Homo sapiens: one gene and its partners. The protein of the gene in region 2 purifies or fractionates together with the protein of the main gene of each other region. This does not show direct contact. Each region holds a gene or a part of one and is shown on either strand. Other genes may lie near its edges. The genes, in order: ANKRD52, CAMK4, ARHGEF7, CNOT1 and PPT1.

The links.
Region 1: the proteins of CAMK4 (region 2) and ANKRD52 purify together in Homo sapiens (affinity purification with mass spectrometry; one large-scale study listed by BioGRID and IntAct). This does not show direct contact.
Region 3: the proteins of CAMK4 (region 2) and ARHGEF7 purify together in Homo sapiens (affinity purification with mass spectrometry; 2 studies listed by BioGRID and IntAct, with this or other methods). This does not show direct contact.
Region 4: the proteins of CAMK4 (region 2) and CNOT1 purify together in Homo sapiens (affinity purification with mass spectrometry; one large-scale study listed by BioGRID and IntAct). This does not show direct contact.
Region 5: the proteins of CAMK4 (region 2) and PPT1 purify together in Homo sapiens (co-immunoprecipitation; one large-scale study listed by IntAct). This does not show direct contact.

What each region holds. Positions count from the first base shown.
Region 1 is NC_000012.12:56,248,373-56,251,890, forward strand, and holds part of ANKRD52 (serine/threonine-protein phosphatase 6 regulatory ankyrin repeat subunit C), read right to left. Parts: intron 499-3,518; coding exon 387-498; intron 195-386; coding exon 123-194; intron 1-122. UniProt on the Homo sapiens protein: Putative regulatory subunit of protein phosphatase 6 (PP6) that may be involved in the recognition of phosphoprotein substrates.
Region 2 is NC_000005.10:111,482,874-111,486,391, forward strand, and holds part of CAMK4 (calcium/calmodulin-dependent protein kinase type IV), read left to right. Parts: coding exon 1-64; intron 65-1,152; coding exon 1,153-1,593; 3' UTR 1,594-3,518. UniProt on the Homo sapiens protein: Calcium/calmodulin-dependent protein kinase that operates in the calcium-triggered CaMKK-CaMK4 signaling cascade and regulates, mainly by phosphorylation, the activity of several transcription activators, such as CREB1, MEF2D, JUN and RORA, which play pivotal roles in immune response, inflammation, and memory consolidation.
Region 3 is NC_000013.11:111,282,796-111,286,313, reverse strand, and holds part of ARHGEF7 (rho guanine nucleotide exchange factor 7), read right to left. Parts: intron 3,176-3,518; coding exon 2,951-3,175; coding exon of another isoform or gene 2,915-2,950; intron 1,910-2,914; exon of another isoform or gene 1,488-1,909; intron 168-1,487; coding exon 74-167; intron 1-73. UniProt on the Homo sapiens protein: Acts as a RAC1 guanine nucleotide exchange factor (GEF) and can induce membrane ruffling. Functions in cell migration, attachment and cell spreading. Promotes targeting of RAC1 to focal adhesions. May function as a positive regulator of apoptosis.
Region 4 is NC_000016.10:58,546,325-58,549,842, forward strand, and holds part of CNOT1 (CCR4-NOT transcription complex subunit 1), read right to left. Parts: coding exon 3,395-3,518; intron 2,310-3,394; exon of another isoform or gene 2,175-2,309; intron 1,359-2,174; coding exon 1,242-1,358; intron 973-1,241; coding exon 862-972; intron 426-861; coding exon 348-425; intron 175-347; coding exon 1-174.
Region 5 is NC_000001.11:40,083,751-40,087,268, forward strand, and holds part of PPT1 (palmitoyl-protein thioesterase 1 isoform 1 precursor), read right to left. Parts: intron 1-3,518. UniProt on the Homo sapiens protein: Has thioesterase activity against fatty acid thioesters with 14 -18 carbons, including palmitoyl-CoA, S-palmitoyl-N-acetylcysteamine, and palmitoylated proteins. In contrast to PPT2, PPT1 can hydrolyze palmitoylated proteins and palmitoylcysteine.

The DNA of each region.
Region 1 (3,518 bases), on a different chromosome or scaffold from region 2:
TGCTTATCCCCTCTCCCACAAAAAGGCAGAAGGAAGGATAACTTCACAAGTGCTGGCACCTTTGTTAGGGCCTGGGAACAGGTAGGACAAGGAAGGCAACAGAAAAAAGACGTGGGACTCACAGCTAAGTGCAAAGGGCTGACTGGAATGGTGCTCTCCACATCCTCCAGGCAGTTAAAGGACATTTCTAAGAGCTGCAAAGGACAGGAAAGTAGGTGCTGAGACTCTGGAACTCCCAAGATAGTACCCCAGTCCCCGACTCGCAGTAATCCCCACTAAGCCTCTGGATCCAAAGACCACATTTGATTGAACCCTTAGTTTTGGAATCCACAAACCCTGTGCCCTGCCCCTGCCTCCCCTCCTGCAGGCCGGGCCCCAACACATACCAGTTCGAGGTTCTGTCTGTTGCCATAGGCGGCTGCATAGTGCACAGCTGTGTAGCCCTGCCTGTCCCGCAGGGAGGGGTCTGCACCGTTATCCAGTAAGAACTCCAGACAGCTGGGGAGCCGGGGGTAGACTGTGAGGCAGGGACAGGCCCAGCCCAGGAGGGCACAGTTCTGGGAGGGCCAGAGGAGAGGACCAAGGCCCTCCAGGCCTACCTGGCCGCCACCCGTCCTCAGCTCTAGGTAGGTTCTCTAAATCCTACCCATTCTTCAATGGCAGCTCCAGACCCACTTTACCTTCTCAAGGTCTGCCCTGAACCCCTCTGGCTTCAATGCCCTCCTTTATCCTCTGAATGCTCTCCTAGAGAACCTAGAGCATGATGTTCAGTTATCAGCCTTCTGCTGACCAACATGCTTTCCCCACCTCCAGGCACGCCAACCCCTGCCCTAGGATGCTTTCTCCTCCCAGCCCACCCGAATAAGTCCTGTTCATCTCAAACTCAGTCCCAGCTTCTCTCCTCTGTGAGGCCTTTCCCAGCCTTCCCTGGGGAAGATGCCTCTTCCTCTGTGCTCCCTTGGCAGTCTTCTCATACCTTAGTAGTAGTTGTAGTAGTAGTAATAATAATAAAGTAGCACTTACTGTCAAGCACAGTTCTAAGTACTTCATGTATATTAAATAATTTAATCCTCATAAAGATCCCATGAAGTAGATACTATTTTTATCCTTACTGTGGGTGATGAAATTGAGGCATAGAGAAGTAACTTGCTGAAGGTAATAGCTGAGCCTCTTGGATTTTAGTGTCCTTTTTAAAAAAATAAATCTTAAAAAAAAATTATTTAATTTACTTATTTTAAATGGAGACAGGGGCCTGGCTCGGTTGCTCACATCTTTAATTCCAGCACTTTAGGAGGCTGAGGTGGGCAGATCACCCGCGGTCAGGAGTTCGTGGCCAGCCTCGCCAACATGGCGAAACCCTGTTTCTACTAAAAATACAAAAATTAGGCTGGGCGTGGTGGCTCACGCCTGCAATCCTAGCACTTTGGGAGGCCAAGGCAGGTGGATCGCCTGAGCTCGGGAGTTCAAGACCAGCCTGGGCAACATGGTGAAACCCCGTCTGTACTAAAATACAAAAAATTAGCCAGGCGTGGCAGCGTGCTCCTGTAGTCCCAGCTACTCAGGAGGCTGAGGCAGAATTGCTTGAACCCAGGAGGTGGAGGTTGCAGTGAGCCAAGTTCATGCCACTGCACTCCAGCCTGGGCAACAGAGTGAGACTCGGTCTTCAAAAAAACAATTAGCTGGGCGTGGTGATAGGCACCTGTAATCCCAGCTACTCAGGAGGAAGAGGCAGGAGAATCGCTTGAACCCCGGAGGTAGAGGTTGCAGTGAGCTGAGATCGCGCAACTGCACTAGAGCCTGGGTGACAGAGCAAGACTCCATCTCAAATAAATAAATAAATTAATTAATTTATTTATTTATTTAATTAAATAAAATAGAGATGAGTTCTCATTATGTGTTAGCCAGGCTGGTCTCATACTCCTGGGCTCAAGCAATCCTCCCACCTCAGTGCTGGAATTACAGGCATGAGTCACTGTGCCTACCTGATTTTTGTGGGTTTTTTTTTTTTTTAGAGACGGGGTCTCACTAGGCTGCCCAGGCTGGGGTGCAGTGGCTATTCATAGGCATGATCATAGTGCACTACAGCCTCAAACTCCTGGGTTTGCATGATCCTCTTGCCTTACCTGCACCTGCCTCCTGAATAACTGGGAATATATGCATGTGCCACCGTGCCCAGCAAAAAATAAACTTTTTGTTTTAGAATATTATTAGATTTATAGAAAAATTGTGGGCTAGGTGTGGTGGCTCATATCTGTAATCCCAGCACTTTGGGAGTCTGAGGCAGGAGGATTGCTTGAGCCCAGGAGTTCGAGACCAGTGTGGGCAACACAGAGAGATCCCTGACCTACAAAATAAATTAATTAAAAAAAAAAAAAAAGAAAGAAAAAGAAAAATTGTGAAGATAGTACAGGGAGTTCTCACATAACCTATACCTAGTTTCCCGTCATTAACATCTTACATTAGTATGCATAAGTGTCCTTTTATTTATCTTTCCCAATAGATTATTAGCTTTCGAAAGACAGAAATTTGGGACAATTCATCCTTTTTAAATTTTTATTTAATTTTATTTATTTATTTGTTTTTTTGGAGACAGAGTCTCACTCTGTCGCCCAGGTTGGAGTGGATTAGTGTGATCTTGACTCACTGCAACCTCCACCTCCCTGGTTCAAGTGATTCTCCTGCCTTAGCCACCCGAGTAGCTGGGATTACAGGTGCCTGCCAACATGACCAGCTAATTTTTATATTTTTAGTAGAGACGGGGTTTCACCACGTTGGCCAGGCTGGTCTCGAACTCCTGACCTCAGATGATCTGCCTGCCTCGGCCTCCCAAAGTGCTGGGATTATAGGCGTGAACCACCACACCCGGCCTATTTTTAATTTTAATTTTTTTGAGACAGAGTCTTGTTCGGTTGCCCAGGCTGGAGTGCAGTGGCGTGATCTCGGCTCACTACAACCTCCACCTCCCTGGTTCAAGCAATTCTCCTGCCTCGGCCTCCTGAGTAGCTGGGATTATAGGCGTGTGCCACCACACCTGGTTAATTTTTTGTATTTTTAGTAGAGACGGGGTTTCACCATGTTGGTCAAGCTGGTCTTGAACTCCTAACCTCAGGTGATCTGCCTACCTCAGCCTCCCTAAGTGCTAGGATTACAAGCTTGAGCCACTACGCCCAGCCTCATCTTTTATCCTTAGTATCTAGCACAGTACTTGGAACCTAGTAAGTAAATATTTAATTAATGCTTGTGGAATAAACAAATTATTTTGTACATTTAGCTTTTCTAATCCTCTCAAGAAGACCAGCCGGGCGCGGTGAGCTGAGATCACACCACTGCATTCCAGCCTGGGCAACAGAGTGAGACTCTGTCTCCAAAAAAAAAAAAAAAAAAAAAATCCATTCCTTTAGGGAAGGAACTATGTCTCATACTTTTGGGTTTTTTTTTCCCCCTGAAGCTCCTGAGCTTCAATCTCATACTTTTGTCTTTGCCCACTATGGACTACACCCAGAGGGCTCAAGACACAC
Region 2 (3,518 bases):
TTTTGTACACATGGATACCGCTCAAAAGAAGCTCCAAGAATTCAATGCCCGGCGTAAGCTTAAGGTAAGATAGCATATATTTTGTTTTGTTTTGTTTTGTTTTCAAAAAATTTATCTCATCTTGATCTATCAATAATAGTTCTACCGTTCTTCATCTAATACTATTATCTATTTCTTAAGGCACCAGGGAAAATCCTGCTTTGAAACTCCAATAAGGCTGACACAAAGCTACTTAAGTTTTCTTATACTCTCATAAGGAATATATGATTAATAAAGGGAAATTTGTTATATAAGTTGATATTTACATATCAAATATATTATTGCTGCTTCTCATCTAATTAAAGTATACTGCTTAAACAGCATTGTTCAGGGAAAACTGATATTTATTCAGAAAGTTGTTTTCTTTCAGAATATGTAAAACTTGGTAAACAATTTTTGAAACTATATTTCCTAATATAGATAAATAATTACTTGACAAAAATTTAAAAATTTAAGTGATATAATAAATTACTTAACTAAATATATCATTTTATATAGTACCTATCGAATAGAGATTAGGAGCTTTTCTATTACATAACTGTGTTTAGGACTAGCTATGTAAGTAGAGGATCTCAGAGAGCAGCTGGGGGTCAGAATTAGGGTCCTATGCAGCCATTGCTTACGGTCTGATACAGACTAAATAAATCTGAAAGGCTCCATGGTCAAATTAATTATAAATACCCCAAATTAAATAGTATTGACTTCACCTAGGATTTCTCCAGCTAGTTTGATCACGGAACTCTTATATCCCCATGATGACATCCATGTGGTAAAAACTACTAACGTCCACAGAACTAGTGTTCCGTAAAACAAATACACCGGGAAACACAGATTAAAATTTTCAAAAATTGGTTAGCCACAGGTAAACACATGTATTCAGGCTTTCAGTTGTCCAGATGATTAAATACACTAATTTGTATTTAATTTGAGATGAAAGAGGTTTTACTGTTCATTCTCCAAATTTTCTTTTGGCAAACAATCTAGGAATAAGGTACTTTGAAAACTTTAACGCTAACCTATAAAACGGAATCCCTAAAAGCAAAGCTGGGGTTGAGCTCTGATGTGGGGTGTTAAAGCAGAGGTAACACTTGACACTCTTCTGTTTCCAATCAGGCAGCGGTGAAGGCTGTGGTGGCCTCTTCGCGCCTGGGAAGTGCCAGCAGCAGCCATGGCAGCATCCAGGAGAGCCACAAGGCTAGCCGAGACCCTTCTCCAATCCAAGATGGCAACGAGGACATGAAAGCTATTCCAGAAGGAGAGAAAATTCAAGGCGATGGGGCCCAAGCCGCAGTTAAGGGGGCACAGGCTGAGCTGATGAAGGTGCAAGCCTTAGAGAAAGTTAAAGGTGCAGATATAAATGCTGAAGAGGCCCCCAAAATGGTGCCCAAGGCAGTGGAGGATGGGATAAAGGTGGCTGACCTGGAACTAGAGGAGGGCCTAGCAGAGGAGAAGCTGAAGACTGTGGAGGAGGCAGCAGCTCCCAGAGAAGGGCAAGGAAGCTCTGCTGTGGGTTTTGAAGTTCCACAGCAAGATGTGATCCTGCCAGAGTACTAAACAGCTTCCTTCAGATCTGGAAGCCAAACACCGGCATTTTATGTACTTTGTCCTTCAGCAAGAAAGGTGTGGAAGCATGATATGTACTATAGTGATTCTGTTTTTGAGGTGCAAAAAACATACATATATACCAGTTGGTAATTCTAACTTCAATGCATGTGACTGCTTTATGAAAATAATAGTGTCTTCTATGGCATGTAATGGATACCTAATACCGATGAGTTAAATCTTGCAAGTTAACACAACGTAACACTTAAAAGCATACATTTTCAGCAACCAGTGGCACATATTTGAAGTGAATAGTAGCAAATTGTTTTTGCTTTGAAAATCTAGCCATCCTACATCCTTTGGATTTCTTCACAAGGCAGTAATTCCTTTGAACTACTGCTTAGCTAATACTAGGTAGTGCTAAAAGACATGTTCCCATAACTTTTACAACATTTTACTTTTTATCATTGATGTGTTCAAACTGTTTACAAGGAGATGCTTATAGATGATAGTTGTACATATGTGCAAAAAAAAATCCACTTGCAATGGTAAGAAATTGAAGTATCCTTAAAGGCCATGAAGCCATATGTCCCTAAAGCCTGTGTGGAGAATGCTTTATTTTATTCTTATTTATATACACTATATTAATAATAACCAAAATGTTCTAAGATTCTGCCATTTTACAACCCTGGAGGAAGTAATTTACAAACTCACGCTGAGTTCCATTCTTTCCTTCACCTGCTCTCCAATAAGATGACTTTCTGATAGACAAAGCTTAGGGTGTAATAAACAGGGAAGAAAAGAAGGTAAGACTGTACTTAAACTGATGAAGATAAGATTGATTCCTTTTCATTTTCCAGATAAAATTGTATTTACTCATGAATTTATACAACTTTACAGATAAGAACATTTTAATGGATAAACTCTATAATTACCAAGTTGCAAATATTTAGAAAATTCTATTTCACAGGTTAGTGCCAAAATGTCTTCATAGAGTAGGAATAATATTCCATTTTAAGATTATTCATTATTGACTTTAATAGAGTAAGAAAACATTATTGTTTATCAAAGCTCTTTTTTTATCCAATTGATGGTTATCTACACATATCACTTATAAACTAAAGTTATTTATGAAAAGCTAGTATGTCTTTTTCTCGTATTTGGAATGAAAGTACCCACATTTTACAATGTAGTGTTGAGAATGTGGCTGCCAATAAATTTAGCACAATGCAATTTATTTACCTTAAAAAACAAACAAAAACAAAAATAAAGAAAAATACTGATTTCAAATCAGACTCTTAAAAAGCTGGAACATTAGACCTGATATTTTATTATGATTTTTCCCAGAATAAGTTTAATTTCTCTTTGACTTTCATAGAAACACTTTCCCCTTATAGAAATTGCACTATCTCCAATTTATTTCTAGTTTGAGTTGAAATGAATATTTTATCAGATTAATTATGTGTCACATTTTTGGTGGGTTTTCTCAATTTTAAAAAAGAATTCATTTTAAAAAATAATTATTTTCAGAGACCAAATAAAGACAATAAAAATGACTATCACATAAAAATCCTTGTTAAAAAAGAGATCTTAAATTATGTTGGCTCTCCCTCAAAACTATTAAATTAGAAAACGAAACTAAAGCTCCAGTTTGTAGAGGCTGTTGGACCTCAGTAGACATTCTTCTTTTCAATCACAAATCTCTCTCTACTACTGTTCTCATGGGAAGAAAACAAGGTAGGACTTCTTATCTTTCATAGTTTAAGAATCTGACAGGTCACTGATATGGAGCCCCTGAAGAAGCACATCATCTGGGCTCAGAAGATTATTTTTTGTTTTGTTTTATTTGTACTATCTAGTAGAGAGCACTTTTCTTATTCCCTCTTTCCTTCCTTCCTCATTTAATTATTCCCTCTCAGAATTCCCATGTTGTCCAT
Region 3 (3,518 bases), on a different chromosome or scaffold from region 2:
TCTATCCCAGGAAAGCCATGGCCTACGTGACCAGGAGGCCACGTCCTCCACCACACGGACCGCAGGTACTCACTTTTCCGGGACGCGAACTCCTCATCTGAAGGCTTCCGTTCAGGTTTGCGCTTGGGCAGCAGCTTTTTCATGGTCTTAGGGCTCTTACTAAGATCCTAGGGAAAGACAAAAGAAAATGCTAACATACTCTAAAGCCAATCATTTTCACTGGCATATCAGAAAGGCTGCTGTAAAGGTATAAAACCCCAAATTATTATAGCCACTGATAAGAGCTTCTCGCCTTTTCCTACTTTGATTTTTCTTTACCAGCTTCTGAACGTTAATTTTTAAAAATCAATAGGGCATTTTCAGTATTAGTCATTGGCTAATTTTTTTTTTTTAATTCTAATAAAACCCCTCGTGTCATTTGGGTCCTGTTAGTCCTGTGATGAGAGGTGTCACCAGGAGGCAGGCTGGCGCTGGTGTGCACAGACATCCTGCACGCTCCTGAGGGAGGAGGAGAGGAGGGGGCAGCTGCTCCCTAGGACAGACCTATCCCCTGGCACAGCTAACTGGAAAGAGAGGAGGAAACTAAGGTTGTCATTAAATGACAGATAAGTAAAAAATAATTGCTTTAAGAAAATATTTGAAGTTTCAGGGAGAAGAAAAGGGAGCGAGTGCTCAGCTACCTGACTCTGAGTGCCAGGAGCACAGCCAAGCTCGGCCAGGGCTGCTGTGCAGGGGCCACATGCACACCAGCTCAGAGTGTTCACAACGGAATGGCCCACCCCTTACCTCTTCAAACAGCTTTTCAAACAAGCACAGAAGACGACGGCAAAAAACAAAGTGAGCAAAGCAAGTCCCAACAGAGCAGGTAAGGTGTCAACTGTCAAGCACGTGTTAAATACCGATATCAAAAAAAGGCTGGTTTCTGCATCACCCCAACGACATAAACCATCACGAATGCTAAACGCGAGACCAAGACTCAGAAGATGAGATGTGCTATGGAATGAACCAGGCTGGAAACAGAGGAAACAAAGCTTGGTTTTTAAAATTATCTTTAAAAGTCTTTTCTTGGGAGCTAAACAATGGGTACACATGGACATGACCATGGAAATGACAGACCCTGGGGACTCCAAAAGGCGGAAGGTGATGGGGGTGAGTTTTGAAAAGCTACCCATTGGGTACAATGTTTCCTATTTGGGTAATAGGTACCCCAGAAGCCCAAACCCCAGCATCACCCAATACAGCCACGTAACAAACTCTGAATCTAAAATAGCCTTCAAAAAGTTAAACAAAAGTATTTCTATAAAAAATTGGAAAGCTCTTAGAAATGCAGCAGCAATCTGTTCCAGAAGACACATTTATACACATGTGCTCATGGCTTCCCTAATTCGAAGCAAATTGAGATGGAGAGCCTTGAAGAGCCAACGCCCGCCCCTCACGTGCTCCGAGGGCACCTGCAGGCGCAGAGGGTCACAGAGCACACAGCACACCTGAGCCAGAGCCAGGCAGAGCGGGCTGCAGAGCGGCCTCCACGAGCCTCCATGTCCTCTTCTCACACCCTGCAAGATCACTCTCCACGCTACTGCTGGGCGGTGCTCAGCAACACTGGACGGCAGCTGCTCGGTGTGAGCCCTTCTCTCCCAGTGTGGAGTTGGCAAAGCAAATGCAGCCAGACTTATCAAAAAAAATTGTTTATCTTCACTTCAATACCCCTTCCGTTGCCCTTTCTACTTCTTTGCCCAACAGTTTTATCCCAATTTTCTTCCCTAGTAATTCAGTCTCCACCAGTTCTTGTAGTAGCTCACTTTTTCTTTAGACTGTGCACACTAAAGTATACAATAAGGAACAGCAACATTCTTCAAGTAACTTCCCATGATAGAAAATGGAAATTCTGACTTGCACACATGATTACCTGAAAGATATCATAAAAACAAAGACTCAGAACAAAAAATGAAAAGCACAGATCCTAATTTCTCATACAGTACTTTCCTGTGGGCCTTAAAACCCCCAGGGCTGCCGGCAAGAATGTAGAAAAAGTCTGCTCCAGTTCCCTTGGCAAATGTGGCCTTGACCAGACACAGAGGCACAATGCCAGGCAAGAGCGTGTCACCATCCTCACGCTCACTCACACCCCACCAACGGGCACTGCTGCTCACACTGACGCGCACGATACCCACACTCTCACCGCCACTCCTCATACCTCACCACCATGCACGCTCAACTGCTTATGAAAACAACTCTCATCTCAATTATCAGCTTCCTCAGGTGAAAGTACTTCTCAGAACAGATTTCTAAAGACACTTCCTTTCCTCATCCAAGCTGGTTTAGGTAAAAGTGTAAGGAAGTGTTAACACTTCTATTTATTCATTGGAATCGTACTTTATTTGCGCCTAGCAAATATAAAAATGCCGGATGAGAACAGAGACAAGCAAAGACCGCATCATGATTTCTTATGCATCAAAGGGGGAAACCGCCTAAGTGATTGTTTTTCATTTGTATTAGTAAATGTTCTCTTCATCTCAAATGGCTTCTGGATGACAAAATGCAGGGCTCCTGGACAGGATCCCCAACCTAGAGGAGGGGTCGTTAGACGCAGCAGACAGCGTGCAGATGCTGAGCGATGGCCTCACACACAGGGAGTGAAAGCCACCTGGGCTCAGCGCCTTTCCAGCTCCTGGCCCCTGGCGGCACACTCCTCCGGCAAGTGCAGTAAAGGCCCCCCTGTGCATGGCAGAAAGGAGGGGGACCCTGCACATCGCCTTCCCACACAGGTTACCACGGGCCTCTCAGCAGCAGAGCAGATAACCAGAGAACCAAGGCAGACCCCCCCTTCTCAGTTCTCTAGGAGTTAGGGTGCATTTTGCTGTACACAGAAGGCCCAGCACGTGGGCACACCCAGGGCCCGAGGCATGCTCACCGTCATCTGGCTGTTTGAGTGGTCAAGGGACCTCACCTCCTTGTAGCAGAGAGCAGCTGAGGGCCGGAGGGGAGGCGCGGGCCGCAGGCAGCTCAGGCTCCAGGGCTTGGGTGTTTTCGGAGGCTCCAGGGGTCCCCAGTTGATGGTGGTGTGCGGGGTGCCGTGGTGGGAGGGGTGGGGCAGCGTGTGGTAGGCGGGCGTCAGCGGCGCGGGCTTGCTGTCTGCGTGCTTGCTGGACGGAGTGACCGGGTGGGAGGGGAGCTGCCAAGGGCACAGAGCGGGAAGGGCAGAGAACATGAGACTCGCGTGCTCACCGCGAAAGGGCACTTATCACGCACTTCCTTCTGCTCTTTAAACACTCCATGTGAAATAAACCTCAGGATTTATCATTTCATTCGTATCTCTGGCTCTCAGCAGTCAGTTTTTGGGGCCAAACACTAGCTCGCGCCACCTGGGCCGAGCGTGGGGCTCCTCACGGCGTCTGCCCCAGACAGGAGGGGCAGCTCTAGCTGGGGCCCCAGCACTCAAAAGACATCCACTAGCCACATTTATTAGCTACGGAGTAACATTTATAGAAAAAAGGTACTTCATCTAGTAAAAAGAT
Region 4 (3,518 bases), on a different chromosome or scaffold from region 2:
GGTTGTGATGGGAGGGAGTTCTTCTGGCTGCTTGACATCTTTCTTTGGAGCAGAGAGTTGCTCATCTAAATTCTTCAGGCGATCTTTATCCTTTAGGAGGTTTCCAGGTTTTAGCTCATTGATGTCTAATGCAAGGTTCTTGCAGAGAACCTCGATTTCAAACTTCAAGTTTAACTGCACAGTTCCAGAGTTGGATTAGAATTTTTAAAAGAAAACTTTAGTTTTACTCATAATATACTCTACTTTCAGTTATTATAGTACTTCCCCCGAAATACCCTGCCTTCACTGTAAGTTTTAATAATGTGAAGGCAAAGAATGTTCCAGAGGACAAGGAAGCAGTAAATTACCTTTAAGTCATGCTCCTGATGTAGCTCAGCTAATACATTCATAATTGCCATTGTCCAAGGGTTTGGTGGCCTAAAAACCTAAAGAAAAGCTATTATGTTAAGCTGGCCCAAAATGTGCCCTTTAATTTGGATTATTTAAAACAATTCAATACAACATAAGGGGGTAGGGGGGAGTCAAACAAATAAAAAACAAAAAACAAGGATTAAAAAATAACCAAAAACAGTTAAACATAGTTAAACACTTATACCTCTGTAGCCATAACAAAACCCCTAGCCTTCTCACCTATATCACATTTCAAAAACAAAACAAAACAAAAAACCAAAAACCAAAGCCAACCATTATAATCTTTCTTATTTCACCCAGCCTCTCAAATTGGAAATCCAAGTGCCATAGAGGAAAACAGACTTAACTAGCTTTACCTCACAAGAACTAAGAATATAATCTCTTGACCTCATGCTAAAACAAAGCAATGCTTAGAAATTAGTCATAAATAAAATATTAAAATCTACTCACCACACTACGAATGCTAGATTCTAAGACTTTGGCAACAAAGGGCACTACATAGAGCAATTCTTGTTGTCCTTTAACATAAGCCTCTAGCAGCAATGATTTCACATCCAAGTCCTAGAATAAGAAAAATACTTTCAAAAGCGGGGAATATACCCCCCAAAATGGTATAACAAAACCAAAGAAAAGTATTTTGCCAAGCTTATCCCCAAAACAGGAATCAACATAATGTCTAGTCCTTGCCTTACAAAAAGGGGTTAACAACTCAAAACGTGGGCCAAAATCTTACAAAACCCCAATAATCATTAAATAGCTCCAAACAGCCAATACTTGTAATCATAATGTGCTGAAGATTCTCAATTTTTACACATTTAGATGAAACTCACAGTGTGTAAGATGGGTTTGTTTTTAGCTAATGTGATCATTCCTAGCCAATGTCCCAAGTTCTTCAGCAAAGAACGATCTGAGAAATTGGCTGCAGCTTTATCAGAGGTCAGGAGCACCTGAAATAGTGTAAGATTAAGAAAGATATGAGAATAAGCTTATGAAAGAAAACTCAACTAAGTATTTGAGAATTCCATTATCCTATCCTAAAGACAAGTCATCATTTCTAAGAACAGGCCCCAAAGTAGAATTACTCTGTATATCATTCTCAATATCATTTTGCTGTGTTTATGATTCAACAGTGCTATTTTTACCTTGAAGAAGTCTTTACATTTTATTTTTTCAAAATAGGTACAAACACATTGCACAAAATTCAAAAAGAACACAAAGTTATGTGCCAGCTATCCTCCCCTAGAAAAGTATTTTCAACTCTGAAAACCTTAGCTAGGTTTAAAGCAGAGACCTAACTACAAAGCTATTTTGAAGTGCTAAATTAATTTAAATGAGGATGATAGCCATGCTTAAGTCCTTAAAGGCAGCAAGCATACAAAGGAATATAATCAAATTAGCCTCCTATTGCAATCTTCAGTATACCCAGGTCATTAACAAATCTCTGCAGCCAACCAAGATAACTTTCTGAGATATAGTATAATACTGTTTATATACTTCTTTTCAAATTTCTAAAAAACCCAAACCATTTAACTGATTCTCCGGTTACTGTTTTTCTAAGGGGGGGCAGAACTAACATAGGAGAGTGTTTTGGCTGCAGGTATGCACACATGTATATACCCATCTACTCTGTGGTACCTCTTGACTTAGGGCTATATTTAAACTTCTGTTTAAAAAACATGGTCTTGAAACTTTGCTACAGAGTATGTGGAAACTTTTATGTATCCCAACCACCCTTGCTATCAGATAATAAAAACGAAATAGAGCCATGTTCCTTAACTCTATACAGCAACAGCAGAATGGCACAAGTCAGCTGTGCAACAGAGAGCCAGGAATTCTTTTGCACTACAGCGTAACCAAGAATGGGGAATATTCCCATCCACAGGTTTAAATATAGTGCTGGTTCCTAAGCCAATGACCCAAGTTATTGAGCAAAGAATGACCACAGCTGTATGCTGGTTCTAGAAGTTTTTCCTCCTAAGAAATAAATGATGGTTTAGAAATTAAAATACTTGAATTTTGTTGAATAAGCCTCAGCTCAGTAGAATTTGACCTTAAACTGCACAGACTCCTAGACAACAGCTATTCCACAAACAGATTTAGAGTCTAAAGATATCTTGCACTTGAATACTACAAGATACAAACGAAAACATTCAGGACAGCATTGTTTATAATAGTTTAAGTGATTAACAACACAAATGCCCAGCAGCAATACAAATACATACAATGGTTTTCTACAAGACTATATTTTTCTGTTTTTTAAAAAAGAGGACTGGCCGGGCACAGTGGCTCAGGCCTGTAATCCCAGAACTCTGGGAGGCCGAGGAGGGTGGATCACCTAAGGTCAGGAGTTCGGGACCAGCCTGGCCAATATGATTAAACCCCGTCTCTACTAAAAATATAAAAATTAGCTGGGCATGGCGGTACAACTATAATCCCAGCTACTCGGGAGGCTGAAGTAAGAGAACTGCTTGAACCTGGGAGGTGGAGGCTGCAGTGAGCCGAGATCGTGCCACTGCACTCCAGCCTAAGCAACAGAGTGAGACCACATCTCAAAAAAATTGAAAAAAAAAAAAAAAGGGGGCTACAGCAAAGAGCATTATCATTATCATGAATAATATCCAGGGGAGAAAAAAAAGTAAGTGAAAAAAAAAGAAAAGGATGTACAGAGGGCGACACCATACAGAATATGCTAACCAATACTATGCTGCTTATGTATAACAGTGGTAAAGTTCTAAAATCATGCATGGCATGACAAAAACAATTCATAATAGTGGTTACTTTCAAAGAAAAGGCACAGGGTATGCCTATAAATTTAAGTTCTGCATAAAATTTAGTTCCATATAAGAAACAAAATCTACAGCAATTTCCAGAGGTACCTAATATTGACAATATATATGGAAAAATAGCAAAAATCCTACCTATATAATCAAATATTTCCAAATTCAAAGCAATAATTAAAGGAAATATAAGAACCAACTCTTACTTTAATGTTTCTGTAGGTCTCATTCAGAACCATCTTGTTAAATTCAGGATTCTTCAGCGTGTCAAGGAAGTTTGAATACAGGCTATGAAAGTTTGGCTCAATACTGACTCTCTTCATAACCAGA
Region 5 (3,518 bases), on a different chromosome or scaffold from region 2:
TTATCATTCTAGATGCCATTAAGAACATTAACGGGCTGGGTACCATGCACTTTGGGAGGGTGAGGAGGGAAAATCAGTGGAGCCCAGGAGTGTGAGACTAGCCTGGGCAACATAAATGAGATCCTATCTCTACAAAAAAATTAAAAAATTAGTGGGGTGTAGTGGCTCACACCTGTAGTCCCAGCTGCTCAGGACGCTGAGGTGGGAGGATTGCTTGAGCCTGGGAGGTTGAGGCTATGTTGCAGTAAGCTGTAATGGCACCACTGCACTCCAACTTGGGTGACAGAGTGAGACTCTGTCTCAAAAACAAACAAACAAAAATTCATGATTCACGGGAAGAGGTCAAAATATCAGTATTATCAGGAATTTAAAAGAAGTTGATTCCAACCCTCATGAATGGCTGAGGGATTCAAGACTTCAATGAAGGAAGTAACTGCAGATGTGGAAATAGCAGGAGAACTAGAATTAGAAGTGGAACCTGACGATGTGACTGAATTGTTGCAATCTCAAAAAACAGATAAGGAATTGCTTCTTACGGATGAGCAAAACAGTGGCTTCTTGAGATGGAATCTACTCCTGGTGAAGATGCTGTGAACACTGATGAAACGACAACAAAGGATTTAGAATAAATATTACATAAGCTTACATAAAAGCAGCGGCAGGGTTTGAGGATTGACTCCAGTTCTGAAAGATGTTCTATTGTGGCCAAAATGCTACCAAATAGCATCGCATGCTACAAAGAAATCTTTCATGAAAGGAAGAGTCAACTGATACAAAGTTCATCATTGTCTCACTTTAAGAAATTAGCACAGCCACCCCAATGTGGGCAGCAGGCCACCCAGGTGCCGAGGCAAGAGACCGAGGGCATGAGCTGTTCCGGTATAATAAAATATATAAAACAACAAGAGTTATCCTAGACCTAGATCATAAACATGATTATATATGAATACCATTCATCATTAGTTTGTAGCAATTATTCTTTATTCCAATATTATAATAATCCTTGCCCTACAATCATAACCTAGGAAAAGCCAGGCCATACAGAGATAGGAGCTGAAGGGACATGCTCAGAAGTGACCAGAAGACAATAGTGTGAGCCCTCTGTCATGCCCGGACAGGGCCACTAGAGGGCTCCTTGGTCTAGCGGTAATGCCAGCGTCTGGGAAGATGTCCGTTGCCAAGCGGACCGTGGTCTAGTGGTAGCGTCAGTGCCAAGGAAAAACACCCACTACTTAGCAGACTGGGAAAGGGAGTCTCCCTTTCCCCGGGGGAGTTTAGAGAAGCCTCTACTCCTCCACCTCTTGTGGAGGGCGTGACATCAGTCAGGCCCGCCTGCAGTTATCCGGAGGCCCAACCATCTCCCTGTGATGCTGTGCTTCAGTGGTCATGTTCCTAGCCTGCTTTCATGTTCCATCCTGTACACCTGGCTCTGCCTTTTAGATAGCAGTAGCAAAATTAGTGAAAGTACTAAAAGTCTCTGATATGCAGAAATAATGGCCTAAGCTGTCTTTCTCTCTCTCTCTCCCCACCTCGGCTGCCAAACAGGGAAGGGCCCCCTGTCCAGTGGACACGTGACCCATGTGACTTTACCTATCATGGGAGATGGCTCACACTCCTTACCCTGCCCCCCTTGTCTTGTATCCAATAAATATCAGCGCAGCCTGGCATTCGGGGCCGCTACCAGTCTCCACGTCTTGGTGGTAGTGGTCCCCCGGGCCCAGCTGTCTTTTATCTCTTTGTCTTGTGTCTTTATTTCTACAATCTCTCATCTCCGCACACAGGGAGAAAAACCCACCGACCCTGTGGGGCTGGACCCTACATCCCAACCTTCAGCAACCACCACCCTGATCAGTCAGCAGCCATCAACACCGAGGCAAGACCCTCCACCAGCAAAAAGATGACTTGCTGAAGACTCAAATGATTAGCATTTTTTAGCAATAAAGTATTTTCTAATTAAGGCATGTACTTTTTTTAGGCATGATGCTACTGCACACTTAATAGACTTCAGTATAGTGTAAACATAGCTTTTATATGCGCTGGGAAACCAACAACTTTGTGTGACTTGCTGTATTAACAATATTTGCTTTATTGTGGTGGTCTAGAACCAAATCCTCAGTTTCTCTGAGGTATGCCTGTAGTTCGTTACATTACTCTCTAACTTTTTTGAATGGCTGAAAGTCTCTGAGAGAGCCTGAGTAGATGCCTTAATATTTCCAGAAAACCAAGTTGCAAGTTCATCGGCTGAGGGCAAAGACATGGGAAAACTGGACAATTGAGGAAAAGCACTCTGAGATCCACTGAGGGTGGGGTGCAAACTGGGAGCGGGGCCCAGAGCAGACCTGGGGAAGGCAAGTTGCTATGAAAATTAAACAGGATATGTAAAGCTCTAGCTTCCTCTGAGCTGGTACGGGGGAAGACGGAGGCCAAGGCCAGGGCAACACTGAAGCATTCATTGTGGCAGGGAGTGTAGAGGTAGGAGGGTAGAGCGTGGGGCAGGGGATGGCAGGGAGCAAACCGGAGGAAGGAGAAGGCTAGGAAGGGCTGACAGCATCTGCAAAGGCAAAAGGGAACTAGAGGGTAGTTTTACATCCAGGAAGGAGAGAGAGAACTATTATACCATTCCTCGTTGCCCTCACCATGCCAAGCCGGGGGCTTCCCCACCAGTTACTGTGCGTATTAGGATATCACGTTTGCTTTGCTAAGGTTAAGTTATCTGAAGAATGTGGAAGACATCTTTTGGGGTCTCTGCCTCTCTTGCACTCTTCCTGCCCGGCCTACTGGTTTACAGGGAGGTGGGGTATGGTTAGTAAGCACGGTCCCACTTCTCTGGCCACAGCTAATGAGAGCAGAGGGGGAGACCTGACCTGAGCTGGGGCATGGTCCCTTCCTGAAGAATCTGAATCGGGACAAAGAGAGTCTAGCCTCAGACTGAGACAATCTCCTAACAGAAAATTAAACATTTGGAAGCCGTGCGAGGCCACCTTCCATCATGTGGGTGGCAGGGGAAGCTGGTCTGCATGGAGAGAAAGAAGCAGCGACACAGAGAGAGAAGCAACAATGGCACTGGAGAGAGAATACCCTGGCTCCTCATGGCTCCCAATTCTTGATTCTAGGCCCTATGAGGCTTTAGGCACCAACAGAGTATTACTTTCTTTTAAAATTTACTTTGGCTTGATATGGGTTTCTTCTTGCAACCAGAATTAATCCTCCCTAATACCAGGGGCAACCTGGGACAGTATCACAAAGACAAAATGATTTCTCTTTATTACTTTAAGCCTTCACCATCTGCTCTGCTAAAACAGTTCTCACACTCATTCATCTGCTTGCTTGCTTTCAAAAACATGTTGCCATTTTTTATGATCTCTTACCTCCTCTCTCCCTGTTCTCTCTGCCCTTGTGGGTTTATCACTTTTTATTCTTCTGCTACCACTTAATTAAAGTTTAAGGAGGAAGTGAAGATAAACACATCAATCTATAGCTTTTAATCAGTATTTTTTATTTTTATTTTTTGAGACAGA